3 linked regions of the Homo sapiens genome follow. The protein of the gene in region 3 purifies or fractionates together with the protein of the main gene of each other region. This does not show direct contact. Each region holds a gene or a part of one and is shown on either strand. Other genes may lie near its edges.

What was found.
Region 1: the proteins of SHISA3 (region 3) and TRMT61B purify together in Homo sapiens (co-immunoprecipitation; 2 studies listed by BioGRID and IntAct, with this or other methods). This does not show direct contact.
Region 2: the proteins of SHISA3 (region 3) and PTGES2 purify together in Homo sapiens (co-immunoprecipitation; 2 studies listed by BioGRID and IntAct, with this or other methods). This does not show direct contact.

The regions. Positions count from the first base shown.
Region 1 is NC_000002.12:28,865,424-28,876,573, forward strand, and holds the start of TRMT61B (tRNA (adenine(58)-N(1))-methyltransferase, mitochondrial precursor), read right to left. Parts: upstream 4,887-11,150; 5' UTR 4,855-4,886; coding exon 4,156-4,854; exon of another isoform or gene 4,137-4,155; intron 1-4,136.
Region 2 is NC_000009.12:128,120,193-128,124,729, forward strand, and holds the end of PTGES2 (prostaglandin E synthase 2), read right to left. Parts: intron 4,359-4,537; coding exon 4,300-4,358; intron 3,660-4,299; coding exon 3,510-3,659; intron 2,943-3,509; coding exon 2,742-2,942; intron 2,455-2,741; coding exon of another isoform or gene 2,409-2,454; exon of another isoform or gene 2,294-2,408; intron 2,288-2,293; coding exon 2,170-2,287; intron 1,082-2,169; coding exon 953-1,081; 3' UTR 501-952; downstream 1-500. UniProt on the Homo sapiens protein: Isomerase that catalyzes the conversion of PGH2 into the more stable prostaglandin E2 (PGE2) (in vitro). The biological function and the GSH-dependent property of PTGES2 is still under debate.
Region 3 is NC_000004.12:42,391,241-42,402,458, reverse strand, and holds the start of SHISA3 (protein shisa-3 homolog precursor), read right to left. Parts: upstream 4,972-11,218; 5' UTR 4,403-4,971; coding exon 4,126-4,402; intron 1,448-4,125; coding exon 1,008-1,447; 3' UTR 1-1,007. UniProt on the Homo sapiens protein: Plays an essential role in the maturation of presomitic mesoderm cells by individual attenuation of both FGF and WNT signaling.

The sequences.
Region 1 (11,150 bases), on a different chromosome or scaffold from region 3:
TAAACAAAGCAGAGGTAGAATAAATCCAGTTTGTTATCTCAGGAGAGATAGGCAGAGAATTAAATGCCAGTATGAGGCATTAGAACTCAGCCTGATAAGCAACTAGGGTGTGTCACTGAGGTGATATAAATGGCATTTTATGAGGATTAATCTGGCAGAAGAATACAGGATCTACTGGAGAAAAATCAAGAGGCAGGAAGACCAGTTAGGAATTTACTATATAATCTCTGCATAAAATGATGAATTTCCTTTTTTTTTTTTTTTTTTTTTTTGGGAGACGAAGTCTCACTCTTGTCCCCCAGGCTGGAGTGTGATGGCACGATCTTGGCTCACTGCAACCTCCGCCTCCCGGGTTCAAGCGATTCTCCTGCCTCAGCCTCCCGAATAGCTGGGATTACAGGTGCCTGCCACCATGCCCGGCTAATTTTTGTATTTTTAGTGGAGATGGGGTTTCACCACGTTGGCCAGGCTGGTCTTGAACTCCTGACCTCAGGTGATCCGCTCGCCTCAGCCTCCCACAGTGCTGGGATTACAGGTGTGAGCCAGTGTGCCCAGCTCAAAATGATGAACTTCTTATTTTTGGGGGGACAGAGTCTCGCTCTGTCACCCAGGCTGGAGTGCAGTGGTACAATCTTGGCTCACTGCAAGCTCCGCCTCCTGGGTTCAAGCGATTCTCCTGCTTCAGCCTCCCAAGTAGCTGGGATTACAGGCACCCACCACCACACCCAGCTAATTTTTTGTATTTTTAGTAGAGATGGGGTTTCACCATGTTGGCCAGGCTGGTCTCAAACTCCTGATTTCAGGTGATCTGCCCGCCTCGGCCTCCTAAAGTGCTGGGATTACAGGTGTGAGCCAACGTGCCTGGCCAAATGATGAACTTCTAATTTAGAATTAAGATACTATATAACAGCGGTCCCCAACCTTTTGGGCACTAGGGACCCGTTTCGTGGAAGACAGTTTTTCCACAGACTGGGGAGAGGGGGATGGTTTTGGGATGAAATTGTTCCACCTCAGATCATCAGGCATTAGTTAGTTTCTTATAAGGAGCATGCAACCTAGATCTGGTGCATGCACAGTTCACAAGAGTTTGCACTCCTATGAGAATCTAATGCCATGGCTGATCTGACAAGAGATGGAGCTCAGGCAGTAATGCTCACTACCCACCGCTAACCTGCTGTGTGGCCCGGTTCCCTGTTACAGGCCACACACTGGTACCAGTCCTCAGCCTGGGGGTAGGGGAGCCCTGCTATATAAGAAAAAAAAGAGACTATGCTATTACTAGATTGGAGGACCCACTTGCCAAACATATAATTGGAATTGTTTTTGTTAACACAAATATTACGGATGATATTAATAAAAACTGTTTTTTTAAATTTAGTAAACAAATTTTCTTGGTGACAGGGTCTCTGTCACTCAGACTGGAGTGTAGTAGTGCAATAGTAGCTCACGGCAGCCTCGAACTTCTGGGCTCAAGCAATCCTCCTACCTCAGCCTCCAAAGTAGCTGGGACCACAGGCATGTACCACCATGCCCAACTAATTTTTTTTTTATTTTTTATAAAGATGGGGTCCTGCTATGTTGGCCAGGTTAGTCTTGAACTCCTAGCCTCCAGCAATCCTCCTGCCTTGGCCTCACAAAGCACTGAGATTACAGGTGTGAGTGACGGCACCTGCCCCCTCACTTTTTTTTTGAGATAGGATCTTACACTGTTGCCCAGGCTGGAGTGCAGTGGCAAGATCATGGCTCGCTGCAGCCTCAAACTCCTGGGCTCAAACAATCCTCCCATCTCAGCCTCCTGCGTAGCTGGGACCACAAGTGTGTGCCAGCATACCTGGCTAATTTTTTATTTTTTGTAGAGACAAGGTCTCCCTATGTTGCCCCGGCTGGTCTCAAACTTCTGGGCTCAAATGATCCTCCTGCCTCAGCCTCCCAAAATATTGAGATTACAAGTGTGAGCCACTGCACTCTGCCTCTGGTCATATTTTTAATACTAAGATGGAATTATGTAATTCTAACAGGGAGATCAGTTTTTAAACATCAGTGAAGGTATTCCCTCAAGCATTTCAAAGTTGTAGAAGTTGAAGTAAAACTATCTCCAGCCATTACTTGGAAGCTATAAAGAGAAGTCAACACCTAACAAATTTAGTACTTAAATTCCTCCTTAGAGTGGAACAATGTGACTTTTATCTGTAACAAATGGAAAGGCAGAAAGTATACTAAATATGCATATTTATAACTTCATGAAATGTAACTAATCTCTCCTGATTTTGTCTAATGGGGAGAAAGGAGACACGGGGAAGCAAGATAAAATTACGAAAGTCTTTTAGTTTTCTTCAAGAGCTTATGATACCATGGCCAGGAGCGGTCGTTCTCACCTGTAATCCCAGCACCCTCAAGGGAGGATCCCTTGAGCCTAGAGAAGTTTGAGACCAGTCTGGGCAAGTTAGGGCGACCCCAACTCTACAAAAAAAATTTTTGATTAGCTAGGCATAGTGGCATGCACCTGTGGTCCCAGCTACTCAGGAGGTTGAGGTGCGAGGATTGTTGGAGCCTGGGAGGTTCAGGCTACAGTAAGAGGTGATTGAGCCACTGCACTCTAGCCTGGGTGACATAGCAAGACCTTGTCTTTAAACAAAAAAAGCTTATTATACCTCAGTAGCCTAAGTTTCTGAGGAAAGTTTTTTTAGTCCCTGGGTAGACCGTTTAAAATACAGACTGGATTCCTACTAAGAACCTTCTAATGGTCCTTCACTACAAATGGAATAAAATACTCAAACCACACCTCATACGGGGTCCCTCATCTGACCCATTGAGGCCACAACAGAAACTCTGCAGCATTCCTCCCTTTGCAAGAACAATTCTCTTCCTAGATCTGTTTACAAGGCAAGCTCTTCCTTATTTAGGTTTCCTATCAAGTGTACCTCCTTGGAGACCATCTCTCCTCACCTGACATAAAGTATGCTCATACCCCAGGTCACCCAAAACAATGTCATTGTTAATATATTTGTCTTCATGACACTTAACACTACTGGAAATGACCTTATTCTTTCATTTACTTGTTTGTTCTTTGTCACCCCTTCTAGAATGTAAGGTCTATGTTGAGGGTGAGGACTGCAGTTCAACACTATACTTCCCTAAACAGTGCCTTGAGTATGGAAGGCAGTCAATTTGCTGAATAAATAACGAATGAATCCTGATCTGGAGAAAGGAGGAGGAGTTGTGTTACACAGGAACATTCTACTCAAGGACTGTGACTAAGGATTGAAATAATCTGCTAGCAATAGATGATTAGCATAAGCTTCAAACTAGGGCTGGGCGCGGTGGCTCCCGCCTGTAATCCCAGCACTGGGAGGCCGAGGTGGGCGGATCACTTGAGGCCACGAGTTGAAGACCAGCCTGGGCAATAAGGCGAAACCCCGTCTCTACAAAAATTAGCCCGGGGTGGTGGTGCATGCCTGTAGTCCCAGGTACTCAGGAGGCTGTGGTGGGAGAATCGCTTGAACCCGGGAGGCAGAGGTTGCAGGGAGCCAAGATCGCAACACTGCACTCCAGCCTGGATGACAGAGTGAGAACTTGTCTTAAAAAAAAGACTGAAACTAGGCTTTAGGCAGTTAACTTTTTAATAAAGAATAGTCATTTTATGTTTGGTGTTGAATGTTAGCTATTGTAATATAAAACTCTATTTCTTCCCTAAAAGGGGAAAAGCACCGTAATGTACCTATTGTTAATATACTCTTGTAACATGATTATTGAATATTAAAATATCATCATAGTAGTACTAAAAAATTGTTCCCTAAGAGTTCAACATTCTCTTGAGTCCTGAAGTTATAAACTTAAGAGTAATGGGGAACAAAATTAGTACTTATTATGTACGTAGTGAGTTCACATCACCCTAACAGAAAGTTGAGCTATTATCCACATTTTACAAATAAGGGACTCGAGACTCCTAAGTTAAAATTAAAATCTAGCCGTTCCCTAATGCTAATTTTCATCATGATATGTAAAAGTTATAACCATTGGTTTATTTTAAAAGCCTGAGTACAATAAAAAATCCAAACGTTCTGAGATGTCTTTGAATACATTAATCAGGACTGAGTACTGCATCTGTCTTTGCCCCTCCTGAAACCAATACACACCTTATCTCCATCGCATTACCTTTGGGAATGTTATGGCAGTCCCTCTTTTCATCAATACTACATAGTCTTCCAAGGCTGGCCTCCTCAGCATGTACTGCTTACCGAAGGAACTCCTCAGTATCTGGCCGGGGAACTTCCCCACGATCTTGCCGAACGGGACTGCCCCCCAGTTACTATTTAAGAGTCCGAAGTTGTTCAACCTAAATAATTTCTTAAATTTTGTTTCTCCCTCCCCAGTCTCAGCTAAAATCAGTTCCCCAGCCTGAAAGGGTCTCTCTCTGGAAGTTGAACAAGAAGGGGAGACGTGACGCTCTTCGACCTCGGTAGCGGACTGGGCCTGCGAGAGCATCGAAGGATCCTCGGATCCCTGGTGTGTGGGACCGCACCGGCCCTGGTCTCCGCTCGAGTCCTCGAGCTCTCGAGGGGATGACTCTTCCCGCAGCGTCGGCAGTCTGAGGTTTTCCAGTGACGAAAGACATCCAGTCCCAATGTCCGAGATGCTCAGAGGGAGAGATGGGCAAGACTCTGCTCCTGGGGCTTTCCTTTGTGCCGCCTCGTGCTCTCTTTCTCCATCTCGCAGGTCTCTAGGCGAGGACCTGCAACACAGTGACCGAGCTCCCTCGAAGGGCTCCTGCCCCAGGCCGTGCAGGAATGAATTGGTTCCGAGCCCCTGCCGCAGGCACAGCAAGACAGGACCGCGGCACCATGCCATTAGCATAGTGTTTCGCGAAGGCGCCGTCGCAGACGAGTGACGCAAGCCTAGCGCGACCCCTTCTTTCCCAGTCGCGCGCATGGCGCAGCAGCCCGATGGCTCTGCAGCTGCGTGGGGCTCTACAGCTCCGCGACTGCGCCTGCGTCGGGGAGGGGGCGGTGCGCTAGGTCAAGCTAGGGCGCGGGAGCAGCGGAGTCCTGGTTGAGTGACCATCCAAGGAATATGTCCTCGCGCGCGGCCGCCGTTTTCCTTTTCGGAATGTGGGTAAAGAATTTACCGCTAACAGACGACCTCCAGGTTCGCTCTTGGACAGCAAGATTGAGAGACAAAACTTAACAAAGCGCTGTGCAAACTGAAATCCCAGGCTTAGCTCGCTTGTGTCTTGAACACGGAAGTCACCTAGTCACCCACAAGATGTATGAGTACAGCTAACCCCCAGATGCATTTGACAGACGGCGTGGGACGCGCCACTTGCTGATTGGCTCTCCTTTCCCAGTTGACCGCGACATCCCCCAGCCCCAACTCCCTTTTGATGGGGCTGTGACCACCTGCCGGTCCCCTCACCCACCCCTCACGCCCGGAGAGTCCGAGGTTGATTCGAGTACTCACTATGTGCTTATGTAACACATGTTTTCATTATTAAAATATAACTAGTTTACCCTCCCAAAACGAAATAGAAGTGTCTTAAAATGGAAACAGGTATCTTTGGAGGCCAGAGTTATTTAGCGTTAAATATCACTAGCCTCCCAGCATTTTGGGAAGCCGACCGAGGCAAGCGGCTCATTTGAGGTCAGGAGTTCGGGACCAGCCTGGCAAATGTGGTGAAACCCCGTCTCTACTAAAAATACAAAAATTAGCTGGGCGTGGAGGCACGCACCTGTAATCCCAGCTACTCGGGAGGCTGAGGCAGGAGAAGCGCTTGAACCCGGGAGGCAGACGTTGCAGTGAGCTGAGATCTCGGCACTGCACTCCAGCCTGGGCGACTGAGCAAAACTCCTCTCGGGGGAAAAAAATTAGTCGGGCGCGATGGTGCACGCCTGTAATACCAGCTACAAGGGAGGCTGAGGCATGAGAATAGCTTGAACCCAGGAGGCGGAGGTTGCAGCGGGCCAAGATCGAGCTACCACTGCACTCCAGCCTGCGCGACACAGCAAAACTCTGTCTCAAAAAAAAAAGAAAAATCGCTAGCCTCTTTGCTGGATATTAGTTGACTGGGCAAAAGTTTATTGAGAGTCTGGCAATACGAGGCACGTTAGACACTCATTTAAGTTTCCAACAATTCTGTGTTAGAAACAAATCCATTTTATGAGTAAAAGAACTGGCCCAGGGAGATTAAATAATTTGGGGAAACCAGGAGTGGTGGCTCACACCTGTAACCCCAACACTTTGGGAGACCCAGGCCAGAGGATTGCTTGAGCCCAGGATTTCAAGACCCACGTGCAACATAATAATAATAAGTTGGTCAAGATGCATAGCTGACAAGTGGCATTGCAGAGTTTCCTATTTAGTCAGTCTGGTTCAGCAGCCCATGCTCTTTGTACTGTAACACCGTTTGGAAAGACTGGTCAACAGCACAGTTGAACTTAAAGTCCAAGTATATTCAAAGGGCTGTGAAGTCAATGTGAATTCTGTTTAAATTTGATGAAATAAATCTTGTTATTCTTTTTTTTTTTTTTTATTTGAGACAGAGTCTTGCTCTTGTTGCCCAGGCTGGAGTGCAATGACACGATCTTGGCTCACTGCAACCTCTGCCTCCTGGGTTCAAGCGATTCTCCTGCCTCAGCCTCCCGAGTAGCTGGGGTTACAGGCACCTGCCACCATGCCAGGCTAATTTTTGTATTTTTAGTAGAGACTCGGTTTCACCATGTTGGCCAGGCTGGTCTCGAACTCCTGACCTCATGATCCACCCGCCTCGGCCTCCCAAAGTGCTGGGATTACAGGCATGAGCCACCGCGCCTGGCCGTTATTACTTTCTAAGACATAAATTAATACTTTCTAATCAGTACTTTCTAGGACATCAGCCACCATAAACTCCATCAACAGGATTTCTCCCTTCTTTTTTTCCTTTTTTTTTCTTTGTGAGACAGAGTCTCACTCTCGCCCAGGCTGGAGTGCAGTTGTATGATCTCGGCTCACTGCAATGTCTGCCTCCCAGGTTCAAGCAATTCTCCTGCCTCAGCCTCCCAGATAGCTGGGATTACAGGTGTGCACCACCATACCCAGCTAATTTTTGTATTTTTAGTAGAGACGGGGTTTCGCCATGTTGGCCACGCTGGTTTGAACTCTTGACCTCAGGTGATCCACCCACCTCAGTCTCCCAAAGAGCTGGAATTACAGCCATGAGCCACTGCACCCAGCCAAATTTCTCCCTTCTAATTCTAAAAATGAATAAAGAAACTGCTCTCTCCACACCCCAACTGCGTGTCTCACTTTGTGTAGTTTGCTTTTTAGGAAAAGTTATGACCAATAGTTTCTGGAGTCGTAGGCTTTTCTCACTACTTTTTCTTGTGATAGGCTTTCTAAGACAAAAACTCATTTTTGGTTATAAAATTCTTGAAATTAAGGAGATTATCATTGCCAAACATGGGTCTGAGCCGGAACCTCCTGAACTCTAAGCCCTATGGTGGTTTTAAAAGTTATCATACCTACTTTATTATTTCTTGAGTATTATCAAATGATACTTGGCTGTTATTTCAGAATAAGCAGGAATTGGAAAAAAAGAAAATACACTAACAAAATATGGGAAGTAAATTTACATATCTTTGATTTTTAAAACAAATTGTAAATGGAAAATGGCATCACTTTCTTTCCATTGTTTAAATAACAGCCACAATGTTATACGTATTTTGTTTTATACACATCTAATGAAATACATTAGTACATTTTGGAAAATAATATTATTTATTCATGATCTTTCAGAGCATTGAAATTCTTAAAAAAGAAGTCACTATGTGGGCCTTTCTATTTCTGGCTATCCTTTACTTCTGCTTTCCCTATGAAATTGTCAGCCTGCACTCTGAAACTATTATCTTGATGATGAATTTGTGATACATCGTCAACTTATCATGTTTACTTACTTAATTTATTTACTGAGACGGAACTTTGCTCTTGTCACCCAGTCTGGAGTACAATAGCACGATCTCAGCTCACTGCAACCTCTGCCTCCTGGGTTCAGGTGATTCTCCTGCCTCAGCCTCCTGAGTAGCTAGGATTACAGGCCTGTGCCACCACGCCTGGCTAATTTTTTGTATTTTTAGTAGAGACTGTGTTTCACCATGTTGGCCAGGCTGGTCTTGAACTCTTGACCTCAGGTGATCCACCCACCTCGGCCTCCCAAAATGCTGGGATTACAGGCGTAAGCTACCGCGCCCAGCCCATGTTTACATTATAAGGCTAAGAAAAATACTGTTTTCTAGTGACATTTAGTTAAGCATTTACTTTAAAATCTGAATAGTTCTCAATAAATACCATGGCTGATGGCTGGCATTTTAAAATCTCCAAACAGGCAACCAGTTCTAGTTCCACAGGTGATCTCCTCCAGCTCTTTGCACATGCTTCTTCACTCTATTTTGTGTAGTTTTCCCTTGTCCTCCAGCTATCAACCTCACAGTACCACTGGAATGGTGGCTTTGTACCAATCCCAAAAGACCTAGAGTAGTGCCTTTCACTTCTGCTCCCAGTGGGTCCTGCCTGTTTTTGTTTTTATTTTAGAAATAGGGTCTTGCTCTGTCACCCAGGGTGGAGTGCAGTGGTGCCATCATAGCCTACTGCAGCATCGAACTCCTGGGCTCAAGCAATTGCCCTGATTCAGCTTCCAGCGTAGCTGGGACTACAGGCATGTGCCACCAATGCATGGCAATTTTTTTTTTTTTTTTAAAGACAGAGTCTTGCTCTTGTCGCCCAGGCTGGAGTGCAATGGCGCAATCTCAGCTCACTGCAACCTCCCCATTCTGGGTTCAAGCGATTCTCCTGCCTCAGCCTCCCAAGTAGCTGGGATTACAGGCACCCACCACCATGCCCAGCAAATTTTTGTATTTTTAGTAGAGATGGGGTTTTACCATGTTGGCCAGGCTGGTCTCGAACTCCTGACTTCAGGTGATCCACCTGCCTCAGCCTCCCAAAGTGCTAGGAATACATGCGTGAGCCAATGTTTTTTGTTTTTTTTTGTTTTTTTGTTTTGTTTGTTTGTTTGTTTTGTTTTGTTTTGTTTTGTTTTGTTTTGTTTTACAGGGTTTCACTCCCATCACCCAGGCTGGACTGCAGTAGCATTCTCTTGACTCACTACAAGGTCTGCCTCCCGGGTTCAAGTGATCCTCCTGCCTCAGCCTCCCGAGTAACTGGGATTACAAGCTCATGCCACCACCCCTGGCTAATTTTTCTATTTTTAGTAGAGACGGGGTTTCACCATGTTGGCAGGCTGGTCTTAAACTCCTGACCTCAAGTGATCCACCTGCCTTGGCCTTCCAAAGTGCTGGGATTACAGGTGTGAGCCACGCGGTTGGCCATAATTTAAAAAAAATTTTTTGTAGATGCAGGGTCTTACTATGTTGACCAGGGCAGTCTCAATTCCTAGCCTCAAGCAATCCTCCCTCCTCAGCCTCCCAAAATGCTGGAATTATAGGCAAGAGTCACCACATCCAGCCAGAGTCCTGTCTTTAGATCTATCATGGCACATGTCATACTATATGGAAATTGCTATTTATCATTTCCCAGGATAGAGGATATAATTGTTGGGGAGAAGACTATGTCTTGTTCATCATTATAATTCCAGTGCCTGGCACAAAACATCTCTCAATAAACATTTGTTGAATAAATGAATGAAGAAAGTAGAAAATGAGAAAATTAACAGCACTGATACCTAGACTACTATACTAAATAACTCAATGTATAAACATGGTGCAATTATATTTAATAGTTATCATGTATTTTGTTCTGTGTCTGTACATTCATTTAGTTTTTATTAGAACTGTTGAAGTTCACAGATTTTTTTCTTACTGTATTTTAGCAAAATAGAAAATATCTATGTCTAAGACTATACCTGCTTTTCTCCTGCTTTTTCACTTTATCCCCAGTTGCTGCTAAACTTGAATCTGGATTCTGTAGAACTTCTCCTCTAGGATTTACTGCTGTGTTACTAGAAACTGCAAATCCAAATTCAGAGAAGTTTAAAACCTTCTCAAACATGTGTACAGGCATCAAAGAAAAATTGATGATATTGAGAATTGGAGGGTCTTCTCACTTATCACCACCCACCACCACCACTCACTAAACCCCTTTTCTGTTTCTAAATTAGAGGATATTATACAGGATGAACCCAAGCCAGTTTGTTAGCACATTGTAAGCCATCATTTTAGAGTTTCAAGAATTGATCAGTCCTTCCTCCTCCTGGAGAAGATCTTAGATCCTCTTTCCTTCTCATCAGGGTCCTTCTTTTGGAGAATGGACTGACTCCTCACCTCCATCGGCCCCAGCCCTACCTAGTCAGCGTCCTGCTCCTGTCTGGGCTTCAGAGAACCTCCACACTGAGTTTCTCCTTTCCACCCTCCATCTCTTTCTCAGGTGCACCAACTCACCCTCAATAAGTCCGCTGGATTTTAAAGTTAGCTGTGAGACGTTTAAGCTTTGTGTTTATGTTCGCTGTCTTTGTTCACCAAGCTTATAATGAATGCACGTAAAATAATCAACTCCACTGCCAGTCACGGTGGCTCACGCCTGTAATCCCAGCACTTTGGGAGGCCAAGGTGGGCGAATCACGAGGTCAAGAGATCGAGACCATCCTGGCCAACATGATGAAACCCTATCTCTACTGAAAATACAAAAATTAGCTGGGCGTGGTGGCGTGCACCTGTAGTCCCAGCTACTCGGGAGGCTGAGGCAGGAGAATTGCTTGAACCTGGGAGGCACAGGTTGCAGTGAGCCGAGATTGCACCACTGCGCTCCAGCCTGGTGACAGAGCGAGACTCCATCAAAAAAAAAAAAAAAAAAAAAAAAAATCAACTCATCTAAACTTTAAGTCTTAAAACCTTGGCAGATTCATTCTTCATTCATTCACTCACTTTGCATAATTGACTCCTAATCATGCATATCTTACAACCAGAGGACTTATCTGGACACCCAGGAAAATTCTGTTCTAATCCTTCTTCTGTGTATTGCTGTTTTTTGTTTTGTTTAGTTTTGCAAAATTGTAGTCATGCCCTTTTTCTGTTCTTCTCATTCTTTACTCTTTTCTTGTTCCCATTCTTTGTATTATAGATTATGAATGAGCATAAACAACAGTAAATGCTTTGGCTCACACCTTAGCA
Region 2 (4,537 bases), on a different chromosome or scaffold from region 3:
CAGGAAAGGGGGTCCCACCCACAACCCACACTCACCCTGGAAGGCAGAGCCTCTTCTCCCATAAAGCCTGGCCCAGCCTGGAGCTGAAGCCCGGGGCCGCCACCTGAGAGGGCTTGGTTCTGTCTGTAGAGCAGGGGTCTGAATAGCCTGGTGCCCTGGACCAGGTGACCCGGCTCTGTGCACTGCACCTGCTCCTATCACTGAACTCTCCCACAAGGCGGGGACAGACGAAGAAACTGAGGCTTGATGAGTGACCCCACTGCAGAGCCCCACCGTGGGTAGGGTGCCCCGACCTGCACTCTGGCTGCTGGGCTCCACGGCCCAGCTGTGTGCCCTGAGTGGTATCCTGGGGACGATGCCACACAAAGCCTGCGGAGCCGTACCGTGCCTGACACCTGGGAAGCCCCAGGCCAGCGGTTAGTTACCACAAGGGCTGGCACAGCCCAAGCCTGATGCCTCCCTTGACCGCCAGCCCCACGCAGCACTCAGCCACACGGAGCTCCATGAGATGCCTGCCATGACAGGCGCCACAAACCTTTCCTTTATTGCAAACATGTCCCAGTCCCGGGAGGCTTGGGAAGAGTGGGAACCAGGGGAACCCAGGGATGGGATTCCACTGAAAACAAACCGTCCTGCTGTCCTGTCGAGGGCCCCCACCCACAGGATGTAGCCATGGGACAGCCACTGAGGGTCCAGGAAGAGGGGCGGCAGAGCAGGGAGGCAGGGACAGGGAGGGGTCGCCCCAGGGCAGTGGCAGGGCTGGAACTCGTCCCTAACATCCCTGAGCCCCAGCAGGTGCCCTGTGTTAGAAGCGAGAGGGCTGGTGGGGGTGCGTGGACAAGGGGCAGAATGATCCTGCCCCCAACCAGTATCGCCAGGCGCTGGCCCAGTGGCCCCAGGCCCTGGCAGCTGGCGTCTTCCGCTGCCTTCCCTCTGCTCTGCGCGGGGACATTCAGTGCGCTGGGGAGGCCTCGGTGATGGCCCTCTCCACCCGCAGGTACCAGGGCTGGATGTGCGTGTGCTGCATCAGGTCATCGAACGCATCCAGCCCCTCCATCACACGCAGCACGCCATACACCGCCTGGGGCACGAACAGAAACGTGTCACCATAGCTGGTTTGACAGGCATCCAGACCTCCTTCGTTCCCTGCCAGCTGTGTGGCCAGGTCCCGTCCCCTCCCCCCTTGGAGCTCGTGACCCACTCAAGGGCCAACAGCACAGGTGAGGGTTTGAACAAAGCATGTGGGGTGGCTGCAGGTCTCGCCTGCTTCACATCTGTACCCCCTTTTCTGGGCCACAGACCCTGCCCCCCAGCAAGTTTCCTTGGGATAAATGCCCTCCCCTCATCTCAGGTCCTGAGATGGGGGAGAAGAGACCCCACCACCCAGTTTCAAGACCCAGGTCACCCAGGGGCAGGACAGTTTTAAAAATGAGCAGTGGGCCAGGCACGCTGGCTCACGCCTGTAGTCCCAGCACTTTGGGAGGCCAAAGTGGATGGATCACCTGCGGTCAGGAGTTCGAGACCAGCCTGACCAACATACTGAAACTCTGTCTCTACTAAAAATTCAAAAATTAGCCGGGCATGGTGGCACAGGCCTGTAATCCCAGCTACTCAGGAGGCTGAGGCAGAAGAATTGCTTGAACCTGGGAGGCGGAGGTTGCAGCGAGCCAAGACTGCACCGCTGCACTCCCGCCTGGGTGACAGCGTGAGACTTGGTCTCAAAAAAAAAACAAAAACAACAACAACAAAAAAAAACAAAAGGAAAAAGGGCAGTGAAGCCAGGCCAGTGAGACGCCCTCCCAGGGGTTTTCTGGGAGAAGCCTGGAGCACCGGACCCAGCCCGCCTGAGGCTGAAGCCAACTCCAGGGAGGGCAGTGTTGATGGCGACAGGTAGAGCTTGGGCTCTGGTAACACCACCCGGGCCTCTGGATCCAGCAGGGCCCGAAGCCAACCCGTTCCCTGAACTTGTCAGTTATGTGAACCAAGGCGGTTCCTGGTCATCTGTTTCTCTCCTGGAGCCACTTCGAGGCGAGTTTCTGTCCGTGATGGCAGAGAGAGGCAGGTTCCTCTGGCAAGATGCAAGCACCGTCCAGGCTTTCCCTTGCAAACCTCCCCCACTCTGAGGACAGAACCCTCGGTCCAGGCACCACCTGCCACCACCACACTCACCAAATCAGCGAGATTCGGCTTCTGGCCCCCCATGAAGGGCCGGTCCTTGCCCACAGCAGCCACCCACTTGTCAGCAGCCTCATAGAGGTCCTCGCGCACGTTGTCCTGGAGGCGGTGCCTGGGCGGGGAAGGGAAAAGCCCCTCAGGGGAGCCCCCACTCCCAGCCCAGCAGGGAAGAGGGTCTCCTCTGGGGAGAGGGGGGAGGTGTGGAAGCCAGGACGGCACCCCAGGTGAGAGCATCACATCTGCAGACGCCTCAGGGAGCATCCGTCCCAGACGGGGAGGCTGTGGTAAAGGCAAGAGACCAGGCCAGGGAGAAAGCCACAGAGGAGGCGCCAGTCAGGGCCCAGGCTTCCGGCTTCAAGGCCAGCCCTGCTGTCCCCAGGGGAGGTGAGCAGGAGCTCTGGGTCCAAGTCCCATCTTGGCCAAGGGACCCATAATCCATAATGCGTTTCCCACCTGCCCTAGGCCTCGGCCTCCCGCTGGTCTCCTGAGGGGTGTGATGGGATCACCACTGCTCGTGGCACCGGAGGCTCGGGGACAGCAGGCCCCGGATGTGCACACACACTTGCCTGCTCTTGAGTCGCTTGCTGATGAGGTACATGGCCGCTGCACCCATGTACTTGGCCACGGCACCCTCCACGGCTCCGAACTTGCCCTCGCGGACAATGTAGTCAAAGGACGCCAGAGCCTCGGTGGGCGTGCGGTACACATTGGGGGAGATCAGGTGCACCAGCCAGTCGTCCGCCCACTGCCGCCACTTCATCTCCTCCCTGCGGGCACGGGAGGGACTTCCTAAGCCAGGACCCGGGCTGTGTTGGGAGCAGGCTGCATTCTCTAGAACATACCCACTGCACGGGCGGGAAGCTGAAGCCTGAGCAGGAAGGTCTTTTTTTTTTTTTTGAGACAAAGTCTCGCTCTGTCACCCAGGCTGGAGTGCAATGGCACCATCTCAGCTCACTGCATCCTCCGCCTCCTGGGTTCAAGCGATTCTCCTGCTTCAGCCTCCTTAGTAGCTGGGATTATAGGTGTGTGCCTCCACACCTAGCTAATTTTTGCATTTTTATAGAGATGGGGTTTTGCCATGTTGGCCAGGCTGGTCTTGAACTCCTGACCTCAGGTGATCTGCCTGCCTCGGCCTCCCAACAGGCTGGGATTACAGGAGTGAGCCACCACGCCCGGCTGCAGGAAGGTCTCTACTGAAATCCGGCATGGCCCGGCCCCAGCCCCGCTGGTCTCCCATGCTGCTCCCTGCTCACGCCATCTTGCTCAGCTTGGTCCTACTCTACAGAAGACCCCTGCGGTCACCACCTTCCCCCGCCAGCCCCAGCCCCACTCACGTCCTGGCCTCCTTCCCACCATACACTTGCTGGGCCTCCTTCTCGTTGAGCATGAGCCAGTACTTATTGCCGAACTCGGTCACCTCCTTGCCCTGCTCGTTCACAGCCTTCATGGCTGGGTAGTAGGTGATGATCTCTTCCAGGGGCTGCCTTCGGAGAGAGCCACAATATCACCCCAACTCCTTCCCCCTCCGTCCCCTGTGGCCGACCAACCCCGCTGCCCCAGCCTCAGAGTGGAGCCAGGACCAACAAAGGCTCTCCGGACTCTTGCAGTAAGAGGGATTTGGAGTAGATGCCAGGGCTACCTCCCCAAGAGAGGGAGGTGTGGGGAGGACAAAGTAGGGGGCTTGGAGGAGGACGGCCACGGGCTACTCTGGAAAATCATTTTTTTTTTTTTTTGAGACGGAGTCTCGCTCTGTCACCCAGGCTGGAGTGCAGTGGCACGATCTTGGCTCACCGCAACCCTCTGCCTCCCGGGTTCAAGCGATTCTCCTGCCTCAGCCTCCTGAGTAGCTGGGACTACAGGCACTCGCCACTATGCCTGGCTAATTTTTGTATTTTTAGTAGAGATGGAGCTTCGCCATGTTGGCCAGGCTGGTCTGGAACTCCTGACCTCAGGTGATCTGCCTGCCTCGGCCTCCCAAAGTGCTGGGATTACAGGTGCGAGCCACTCTGTACTCTGGAAATCTAAGCAGCAGCTCCACGTGCTCCCAGGAGGGAACTCAGGGGAGGCCTCCCTGGAGGAAGCCACCAAAAGCAATGGCCACCTGGTCTCCGAGGGGCTCCTTACCCCGACACCAGGTAGGTCTTGAGGGCGCTGATGATGACAGAGGAGTCATTTAGTTGTTGCTGGAAGAGAAAAGGGTGGTTTAATCAGAGGTTGCAACCCAGCCGCTGGGAGTCACCAGGGGCTCTTTAACAAGACACTCTGGGCATTGTTTATCCATTCCTGGGGACATGCCCGGAGTCCTCCCCGCCCTGCCCTCAGGGCACCCATCCTAAGTAGGGAGACGTGGTTGTGGCCAATG
Region 3 (11,218 bases):
TTTATTCTAATCCAACAAGATATATGCCCAAATATATAGTCATCAAACATAAAATTCAGGGGCACTGGAGATATATATAATATTAGATGATTATACCAATAGCTAGACTTTGAACTCCAGTTATTATTAACATAAAAATTACAGTATGACTACTAAATAATTAGTACAGTCAATGTGGTAAATACATTAAATTACAAATATTTACATTTGAACATAGCTCATTTTACAAATAAATGTTTTAAGCCCCAACTGTCCAACTTTCACTGAAACACTAAATGTTGCTGAACAAAAAGTCTGCAATAAATACTCCCTCCAGTGAGTGGGGGAAATGATTTTACATACACTCTGTGTTACAATGAATGTCTGAGTATATATTTAAAACTTTAAACTCCTCATGTGATTATTGAAACCTTGTATTCTGGAAAAACTCATATTGTAAACAAAATTTAGTTATTTATTTAAAAAGTAAATGTTCTCATTATGCTAATATTATTCATGGTTAGGTTACTCCCGAAATCATAAATAGATTTTTCACTGCCCCCTTAAGTTTACCTAATAGTTAATTTTTTAAGTGAACCTTTGATAATTACAATTAGGTATTTTTCTTTGCTTATTTATGAATATATTCCTATCATAACTCAATGAACAACTTATATGAAAAAGAAACATGTAGCCCTTTTCTAAGCAATATAGCTGAATGTCCAGTAAAACGTTTTTAGCCAGTTTGCAACTTTAAAGTCAAACTGCTGCATATTTTGAATAAAAGTAGCATAGATTGAAATGTAATGATCACATGTTTGCAAAACCAGAAAACAGTTCTCTGGTTTAGCCTTTCTGTGATTGGAGACAGGAACTTTCAAATTAGAAGGTGCTGTGTTTTCCTAGCATGCTCCTCCATGACACTGATCAGTTACAAGGGAAATTTTCTCAGAATTGCATGTGGCAATGGGAGCAGGGCTCCACCTGTCTGCCATCTGACTGAGTTGTGGATTCATGGCCTGGGCGTGTCAACTGGAACTGAAGTCTGGACAGCTCTTCCCAGGCAGTGGGGGCTCCTGCTGGAGGGGGTAAGCGAAATACTGGGGTGACACCAGGAAACCAGATGGCTGAGCCAGGTGGATTGAGTGGCTGGTGGTGTATGGCGGGGGCGGTGAGGGCACCAGGCAGCCCGGCTCAGCCCTGGCAAAGGAGAACCTGCGGATGGAGCCGCCTGTGGAGCTGGAGCTCGTGGCTGTGCTGGACTGCCGGGAGGGTGCCCTGGGGCTGGTGGAGGTCAGGATCATGGGCAGGGTCTCTGTCTGATAGCTGCGGAGTGAGAAGCGGATTGGCTGCTGCGAGGGCTCCTTGGGTCTCAAACAGGTGCAACAATAAATAGCCACTACAGAGCCCAGGATGATGAACGCAATGAAGATGGAGCCGACGATGAGAAAGGGGACGTAGACAGGCTCTAAAAGGCAAAAACAGACATAAACAGATGCTCAGATGAGGATCTCCCAGATTCTGAACTCTGCTTGGGCAGCTGAGGGTTGAGAGGTGGGAGACTCAGTTACTATCACTGCTGTCAGCTCAGTTTTTCAGAGCTTGTTAATGGTAACCTCCAAAATGCAATGCAAACCGTGATGATGGAATATTCTCGCTACTCCTAGCAGGGAGGAAGCAAACGGATACCGTAGCCTCTGTTAGCAATTAACTATCATATTGCACATCTGGAAGTCAGAAAAAAAAAACGGAATCTGTTCTCCTGTTCAGGCACTAGAGGGAAAGGGTGAGTTTTAGGGGTTAAAATAATTCTAGGTTTAAATGCAGGTTTTAGTAGTTTGATCACGGTGAGCAGTAAGAGACTTGTCCCCTCTCTTAGGCTGGCAATCCATCTCCCATTCAATAATCTCCAGTCTAAGCAAAGGGAGCCAGGCCTATTAAATGAGATTCCCCTCTACACACAGACCCAGGATTTTATGAGACTCCAGAAAGAACAGTATAAAGAAATTCACAGAGGGCCCCAATCGACTGTGTCTCCTACCATACACCACAAATTGCCAGCTCTGGCTGCTTCTTTCCAGGAAAGATTTGGAATACCCACTCCAGCTGCCGTGCCTCTCAATTCCCATCCAAGCCTGGGAAGTCAGACTGAACTTTAGATAGATCACCAGGCAATTCTTGGTGTCCACGGCCCAGACTTTCTATAAAAGCATCCCTCAAACAGAGCAAACTCCAATTTCCTTCTCTCTCTACAAGGCAGACATAAAATTCCCAAGCCCGGAGGCATCCCCTTGGGCAGTTCTCCAGGTCTCTCCCCTGATAGAGCCGTGCTAAGACGCAGCCTCCAGCTTACAGGTAGAAGAAAGAAAGCCTGCATTGACTAAGTCCCTACTGTGTGCCTGGCTCTTTCTTATTCATTATCTGATTAAAGTCTCTTGGAGACCCTGTGAGATGGACATGATAAGCTCCATTTTCCAGATGTGGAAATACATCAGAGAAGTTTGCGCATTCCCACAGACAGAGCTAGTGAGGGACAGGTAACTATCAATTATTTGTGGGCTACTAGGCGTAAGCTCTTCTGTGTCCCTCCCATTCTCCCTTGTTTACTAGCACCAGCGTGCAAGGCAAGGCAAAGGTAAGTAACTACCATTTACTGAGCCCTGCGCTCCAGCATTCATACACTCTCACGTCACCAACAACTTAACTCCTTTGAGAGCAATATGCCCACTTTAGAACTGAGAAGAGGTATCCAGAGCAGTTAAGTAACTTGCCCAAGTTACACCGCCGGCAAGTGACAGAGCCAAGGTCCATCAGGGTTTGCCTGATCCCAGACTCAGTGAGTGTGGAGACTGCCTCTCCCTTCTGCTGTCCTCTGGCATCCGAGCCGAGTAGGGAGCGCAGAGGAAGCCCGTGCTGCAGACTGGGCAATTGCACTTACTCCCAGAGGGCAGCTGGGTCCCCCAGGGTGAGCGAGTGAAGCCGTGGGGAAGAGTCTATATTTTTCTAACAGGCCAGGAGGGCCTAGATTTCCCTACTTTCCGCTGAGCATCTTTTCTCCAGAACTACTTCCAGAATCCTCTAGATTGGAAATGTTGACCCCCAACATTCACCCTCTAGTGGAGCACTAATGGAGGGCAGACTCCCCTGTCCTCTGGGTTATCAGTTTGCGGGGAGGGGCCGTTGGGGAACCCTTAATGATCTCTCCAGCCTCTCTTCCCTTTCCCGGCGACCTTCTCTTGCGGGCTCCAGACCTCGGCTCTCTGGAGTCCTGGGGTGTCACCCGCTCTCAGCTCCGCCCGCTTCTCCGGTTTCCCTGGCCATAAAACCCTCGCCTCAAGCTCTAAAGCGTTTCCCTGATGTTCCGATTCAGGTGGAAAACTTTTTTTCAAGGTGTAAATTTTCTCTGCTGGGGTCGTGATTTATTCCGCTCTGAAGTCAGCGGAAATTTGACCCGTGTTTTCCGAAGTGAGAATAGGGGGCGGGGAAGCCCCTTCGACCCTTGTTTCTAAATCTCCACCTCGAAGACCTGGGCATTTCTGAAAGGCGTGACAATAGGGGGTGGGCCGGAGAGGGTAATTCGATGCAGAGAATTGAAAGGAAGTCTGCAGAACGGGGCCGTGGCTTAGAAACGCTATCATTAAGACAGAAAAAAAAAGTGACTGGGGTTTCTTAGCCCTGAAGGGCTGCAAATGAGCGCGCGACAAGAGTCGCGATTCCCTGCATTCGGCACTTCCCGAAGCTCCCGAAGTGACAAGGGCGAGCAATGGGACACCCTCGGCCCCTCCACCAAAACCCAAGTCTACCCTGGCTTTACCCGCACTACCCTTCTCCCGGGAGCTCCAGCTGTCTTCCCCCCGGCTACCAGGCACAAGCCCCGCGCTCCTCACTGTCCCTGGCAAACTTTCCCTGCGGGCCGACCCGCAGAGACCGCAAGTGGCGGGAAGCGGGACTGCAAATGAATAGAGGACCATGATCTGAAACGCGACCACCCACTCATCCCTTGATTCCCCCACCCGGCCGCGTCCCCCTGGCGCACAGACCCAGGAAGGCGCATAGACCTGCCTGGGTCTGTGCATCCTCCCGCGCACACATGCAGCCGCCGCCGTTAGGCGGGCGGGGATATGTCCCCGAGGGCCCCGCACTTACGCGCAGTGATGCCTGGGTGCTCCAGTTCGCGGCGGTCGTTGGTGCAGCCGCCCTGCTCCAGCCTGGCGTCGGCCGCGGCGCAACAGTAGCGGAGCGCGCAGGAGCCGCAGCAGATGGTAGCGTCCAGCGTGTCGAAGTCCTCTGGGCACTGGAAGCCCTCGTGGTAGTTGCCCTGCACGTCCACCCAGCCGTGGCAGTACTCTCCGGACTGCTGGGCGCCCGCCGGGCCCCAGCGCAGCCAGCCAAGGAGAAGGCAAAGCGCCAGCAGTGCCCTCATCGCCACTGGGCTCCCTGGGCGGCCGGGAGCAGGACGCAGCTGGAAAGCGAAGGGCTGAGCCCGGGCTCAGGGCGCACAGCGATTCCGCCTCCCCAGGGACACGTCGCAAGCTGCTGGCCCCGGCGGCCGAAGCCAGTCCTGCGTGGGATAGCAGGGGCCGGGGAGGCGACAGGGGCTGCACTACGAGTTCCGCAGGCCGGGAGTCAGCATGGTGCGCGGGGCGAGTTGGCGAGGGCCTGCGGGAGGCGCCGGCAGAGGCAGTTGCTGGGGCTGTCGCTGCCGCCCTTCGCCCGGCTCATAGCGCTCCCCGCGCGAGGGGCGCGCCAACCCCCCGGCCACCTCCCTCCCCACTCCTCAAGGGAGCCATAGCGCCCGGGGCTGCCAACTCCAGCGCCGCACAGAGTCCCAACCTGTGGCGATCGCCGGGTCCCGAGAGGAGCCGGAGGAAAAGAATTTGTTCCCCACGTGCGAGTACCCCAGACAGGCGGCCGCTCAGCCCCAGCCCCTATCTGTCACAGGAGCAGGAGTCAGCTCCGCCGCGGCCAAGTACAAACGGCCGCGGGGTTGCTGACAGCTCTGCCCGCAAGGCGTCTTTTAAAAAGGAAGAGGGAGGAGGAGACAATGAGGGTTAAGAAAGAGTCCGCCCTCCCGGATCGCGCCTCTGGAGCTAATCACAGCGGGTGCGGCGCGGGCCGAGGGTCCTCTGCGCTTTCTGGTTCGCGCTCCATCCTCCGCCTCCCCCCGGCCACCCCCGCCCATGCCGCTCCCCCAGGACTTGACTCTCAACCTGAAGATATCAGACCCTCCCCTCCCCCGCCGCACACCCCAACTCTCTCACAGCCCGGAAATCTCTGCAGAGTGACGTTGAGGGCTGCCGAATTCCCGCGTTTATCCACGCACGTGGGCGCGCGAGTGGAGACGCTGGATTTACTTTTCAATGGATATAATGCATGAATGCGGTGCAGTCATTGAAGTTTGTCGAATCATCTGTGCCCTGTTGCACAGACTCAGACTCGTTCCTGGGATACCGCTTCTAAAGGTTCAGGACCGAGAACATGGTTTTTAGGTGTCGCCAACATGTGCTGAGCTTTCCACCTACGTTTCCACTTTTTCTGGGAGGAACGGCACATTTTCACAAGCACACACACACACACACTCGCACTTTTTCCGCCGGCTGAAGGATTGCCGGTCACCTCTGCCAGCCAAGGCCAGCTCGCAAAACCTCAAAGAGCACGACTTCTCCGTTCACGCCCGCAAAGGAAATAAAGGAGCAAAATTAATGATAATTGAGCAGAACTGAACTTCTGTTCAGGGAAAGAAACACATTTATTTAAATGATGTGTCCCCTGTGGGCTATTTTCAGGGGCACTGCTCCGTTAGCGGCCTAAGTGCCTTATGAAACTGGTGTTATGTGAAACCTGGGCCAAACGCAAGCATTTATTTTGACTGCATCCTGAACTTCCAATCATCGTCTATTGGTATGTGTGAATATGTTCGGTGTATCTCGGCTTATTTGTCAAACAAGCTGCATACCCGTGTCCCTGAGTTAGATGTCGGCAAGTTGAGTGAAACAAAAGGAACAAAGTGTTCTCAGCTCCAGCGACACAAGGTGCGCGGTCAAACGCATTTATCACGTTCGCAGCTTCCTGATGAACCGAGTCGATTCCGGAGAAACTTTTTTAAAAATCTCCTATTAAAACGATTTCTTTTTTTTTTTTTTTTATCTAAGTTAAAGTATATTCCAATTAAATAATTACTTCTGATTTCTAATTTTAGGTATTGGGATTAGCATTTAGTTATGTGGCTGCTGAAAATACATGTCCATTTCACACGTTAAGTGGGACCGTGTAAATATTTAACTTTATTGCTCTCTTAGAGTTACATATTTCTTAGGACAATACGAAGCTATTAAGTAAAAACAAATTAAGTTGGAGCTTTCAATAACAAACAATGAAACAGTTTTTTAGTTAAATAGTTTAAGCATATGGGAAATTGTTTTGCAGAAATTTCTTAGATATTGGGTTTTTTATTTACAAAAAAAAGGTCTTGCCAGACTTAATCTTTTTTTTAACTCTAGTTGTTTTTTAGGAGTGTTGTTTCAATTGTATATATATCCTGAGCAATTACAGGAAAATGTCACTTAGAAACACAGCAAAAATGAGATATAGTGATTATAATCAGATGATAAAAATTATGACATGTTTACTGCTAATAACTTTCCCAGAACCACACCTTTTAATATTAGTTTTTGTTAAAATTTAGAGGAATTTCATTACGTCATAACTGCATAAAGTTCTGCTGCAGCAGCAACCTTTGCTGGTCCCCCAAGGGTCAAGTTTCTCTCATTATCCAGCTGTTCTTTGATAGCATTAATATTTTAAGGAGTGATTTGTTGGCACTTACCTCCCATTAATTACATTCTCCATGCCACAGTGGGATTCTTTTTCCTGGAGACACCAGCTATAATTAATTCCCTCATTCAAAGCTCCTGTCTACTTGACTTATTTAGAGGGCATTTTACCCAAATTTAGTTGGATGATGTTTACTAATGGAAAGTAACCAAACCTCCAAATTACTTGATCCTTCGTAGATCTGACTTGTGTGAACAGTAAACAACTGTGCACCATGCTTCAGATCTAGGTCCTCATCCTAAGCACCTTTAAAACCATTACAACAATCAGCTTCAGGAGTTTGCCTGGGCGAGGGGTTGGGGGGAGGCAGTGATATGTTTGGTTTCTTGTCATAGAAGATCTCTGCAAACTTTCCATTGTCAAATTTTAACTTCAAAACTGATGCCCTGAGAATCCTTTTCACCAACAGAAAGAGAATATTCACCTCTTTTTAGATATATAAACATCCAAAGTTTTTGTTATTCTGTTACTAGTTTAATAGTAAAGGAAGATGAAAAAGTTCTCATAGACACCCCTGAAAGACTCTAGGGGGAAGACATAGAGATAGAAAATAAAGTCCACAATATCTGGGGTATTATGAAGAGGTTTTGGAAATTCTTTATTGTTTCTTATCTCAGTAACACAAATTCCTTATTTTGGTCAAGAACATAATCATAAGAGATCATTTCCCCAGCCTACATACATTCTCTTGTGGCCCTGCCTCAAGGAAACTCTGTAGGAAGTGAGTTAATTGACATGATGTCTGGACTATGCTTTAATAAACACCAGCAAGAAAGAAAGAGAGGAGAGAAAGGCAGAAAGAAAGGGAAAGAAAAGAGGGAGGGTAGGAGGAAAAAGAAAAGATAGGTGAGCAATAGGGATGAGAAGATGGGCTAGGCAGAACTGAAACACAACTGGCAACATGTAGATAACTGTAGCTGGCTGAAGGGAACTTATAAAATCGAAATGCAACTCTTTTTTTCTTTTCTTTTCCTTTTGTTTGAGACGGAGTCTCACTCTGTTGCCCAGGCTGGAGTGCAATGGCATGATCTCGGCTCACTGCAACCCCCATTTCCTGGGTTCAAGCAATTCTCCTGCCTCAGCCTCCCAAGTAACTGGGACTACAGGCACCCACCACCATGCCCGGCTAATTTTTGTATTTTTAGTAGAGATGGGGTTTCACCATGTTGGCCAGGCTGGTCTCGAACTTCTGACCTCAGGTGATCCGCCCACCTCAGCTTCCCAAAGTGCTGGGATTACAGGCGTGAGCCACTGCGCCCAGCCGATGCATTTAATATTCTTAGGACATATTTGCTGACCATATTTTTAAACTTTGTTCTGGCCAGACATGGTGGCTCATGCCTATAATCCCAGCACTTTGGGAGGGCGAGGAGGGAGGATCCCTTGAGCTCAGGAGTTCAAGACCAGCCTGGGCAACATGGTGAGACCCTATCTCTACTAATAAAAATATAATTAGCTGGGCATGGCGGCACATGTCTGTAGGCCCAGCTACTGGGGTAGCTGAGGTGGCAGGATCACTTGAACCCAAGAGGTGGAAGCTGCAGTGTGCAGCGGTGGCACCACTGCGCTCCAGCTTGGGTGAACAGTGATGCCGTGTCTCAAAAAAAATAAAAAAGAAAAAAATTGTTCTGTTGACTTATCTTTTTTATATTCTTTGGAGCTGAGTGAATGATTTGAGAAAACCAAAAGCAGGGAGGTGAAGGGCCACATGGATCAGAAAGGTTTGGGAACTAAAATATACTGAGGAAAAAGGAGGAAGGCTAAAGGAATGCAGAAAACAAAAACAAAAACAAAAAAGGGCAGTTCACTGGACTATGGAAGAGTCTACTCCAGCTCATTTGCATTGGCCTCAGAAACAAAATGAAAAACAAGAGTTCCTCAACCCTCCCTCAAGTTTGCTTGTGCAATGACTTGTTTTCACTCTCCTTTAATTCAGAAAAAAACACTTTAATTTAATTTTCCTTTAATTACCTTGCCCATGACTTCATGGAATTCTCTTCCTTGGATCGCTTGTTGTAAATCTCTTACTCCAGGCCCCTCTCAATCTGAGTTACTCGAAAGGTGTTTTCTCTGAAATTTGCTGTGGCACATGTTTACCCTAGAGAATAGCAAGGTGCCTAGAAGGACACTCTCAGACCTGGGCAACCCAGCCCCAGGCCAGGCCCCTCTTCCTGCCCTGTGTTTCGGGCAGCCTCAGTCTCTTCATTTACCAAAAGAGGGGCTTAAGCTAGGGCCCTTAGAGAGTGTTTCTCAAAAGGCCATGAAATACCTGGGAATCTTGTTAAAATGCAGATCTGGCCGGGCACAGTGGCTCTCACGTCTGTAATCCCAGCACTTTGGGAGGCCGAAGCGGGCGGATCGCCTGAGGTCAAGAGTTTGAGACCAGCCTGGCCAACATGGTGAAACCTCATCTCTACTAAAAATACAAAAATTGACCGGGCGTGGTGGCGTGCACCTGTAACCCCAGCTACTCAGGAGGCTGAGGAAGGAGAATTGCTTGAACCCGGGAGGCAGAAGTTGCAATGAGCTGAGATCACGCCACTGCACTCCAGCTTGGGTGACAGAGCAAGAGTCCATCTCAAAAAAAAAAAAAAAGCAGACCTGACTCTCACAAAGTCTGCAGTGGGGCCTGTGATTCTGCATTTCTAATGAGTTTCCAGGTGATGCCAAGTGGCTGCATTGAGGACCATACTCTGAGGCCCTCTGGCCTTCCTCTGCCCTGTCTGCAGCCACAGGGGAAAGAGTGAATAGAGCCAGAGGGCAGTGCCCACCCAAAGCCCATTCCCTCCCTTTTTGTACCACTCTCTGGGTCCTGGATCCCAGCACTCCCTACTCAAAGAGGCCAAAAGTTGCTTCTAGGCTGCACAGAAGCCTCTTCCTGATGTTAAGAGGTTCTGGCGGGAGGTGTTTCAAAATTTGTACACATAGGCTGGGATGCCCAGACACATACATGGGAGGCCCCTTGCAGTGCAAGATGAAGTCAGGTATGGGAAGAAAGAGGAAGTCAGAAGAACAGACTCAGGCTGATGGCTTTCATGACTTTTCCTGCCCTGGCTTGAAAATGTGAGAACGGGCCTGTTGTCCAGTATGTTATAGAGACTCTGTAAGTGTTCATACAGGGTATAAGGATTGATTGAATAAACAACAAAAGGAACGTTAGCAATTCCGTGGTATTAAACCACACACACTGCAATTTTGTGTTAGGGCATCTGTCTTCCCCATTAGTCTGACCTCCTTTTACTTTATTGGATCCTAGGACCTAGCACATAGTGGGTGCTTAGTGAATGGTGAATAAATAACTGGCTAAAACAATGAGTGGCTACTCGAGAACTTGTTGCAACTGAGTGACATCCGTTTCACGACTATACAGAACTGCAGCAGAGGAGAGCAGGATGAATTCCCAGGCAGGGGGTATTACAGAGTCATCTCCTGGTGATTTAATCATCACTGTAGTGCATGAAGAACTCTCCAGTGTGTCAGCACTGCCAGAATAGGGCAGTCACCAGCCCATCCCCCATGGAGAGAGTGCTGACACTTGTCCTAGAGAACAGAGATATGATGCAAAGACAATCGGCCAGGACAGGAGAGTGTGCGTCTTACTAATCACATGACCTTGAGCAAGGTCATTTCTGTGTACTGCACTTCAGCTTTTGTGTCTCTAAAATGAGGGATGTGGGAAGGAGTAATCCTTACCCTGAAAGATTATTGTAAGGATTCAAAATAAAACACATAGCAAGGATGCAAAATAAAACATGGAGTGTGGCACAGAGTTGGCACTTCATAACCAGTAGGTATTATTATTACCCACCACCAGCTGATTTGAATCTGTAATCAAATAATCATGGCAAGTTTCCTGCTAACCAGAGTAGGCCTGTTCCCCGATTAATTTGAATAGATTATTTACAGTTCCCCTTCATTCATTCCCTTATTCATTAAATATGCCCATTCATAACGACTGGCAATTGAATGTTGATTATTCATTTTTACAGTTGTTCTCCTGAGACATGCCCAAAGCTAGGAGAAGAGGAGGATGAGAGAGGGTGTCAGATGATCACAGTGTAAGGACAGGCCTTACTGGACAGACCTTATTTCAGCTGGATTTCTACAAGGTGTAGCCCCAAGCACAGGTGGGCATTTAATAAGTATCCGATTAGTCTGTGATTCCACATTATGTCGGTAGAGCTGTAATTTATTAACTTGGGCTCCTGGCATCCTTCCAGTGCATGTATAATAGAATGACATTTTTCATGCAGAAATATAAATTAAATTAATTGGCATCCATATTTAATTGAAATTTCCTTGACAGTAGATGGATTCTCCCCTAACACCACCCCTTTCTCAGCAAGGGGCATTTCCTTCTGAGTGCTTGCAGACTGAAGAGAGGCCAGCCCCCATTCCTGGGGCT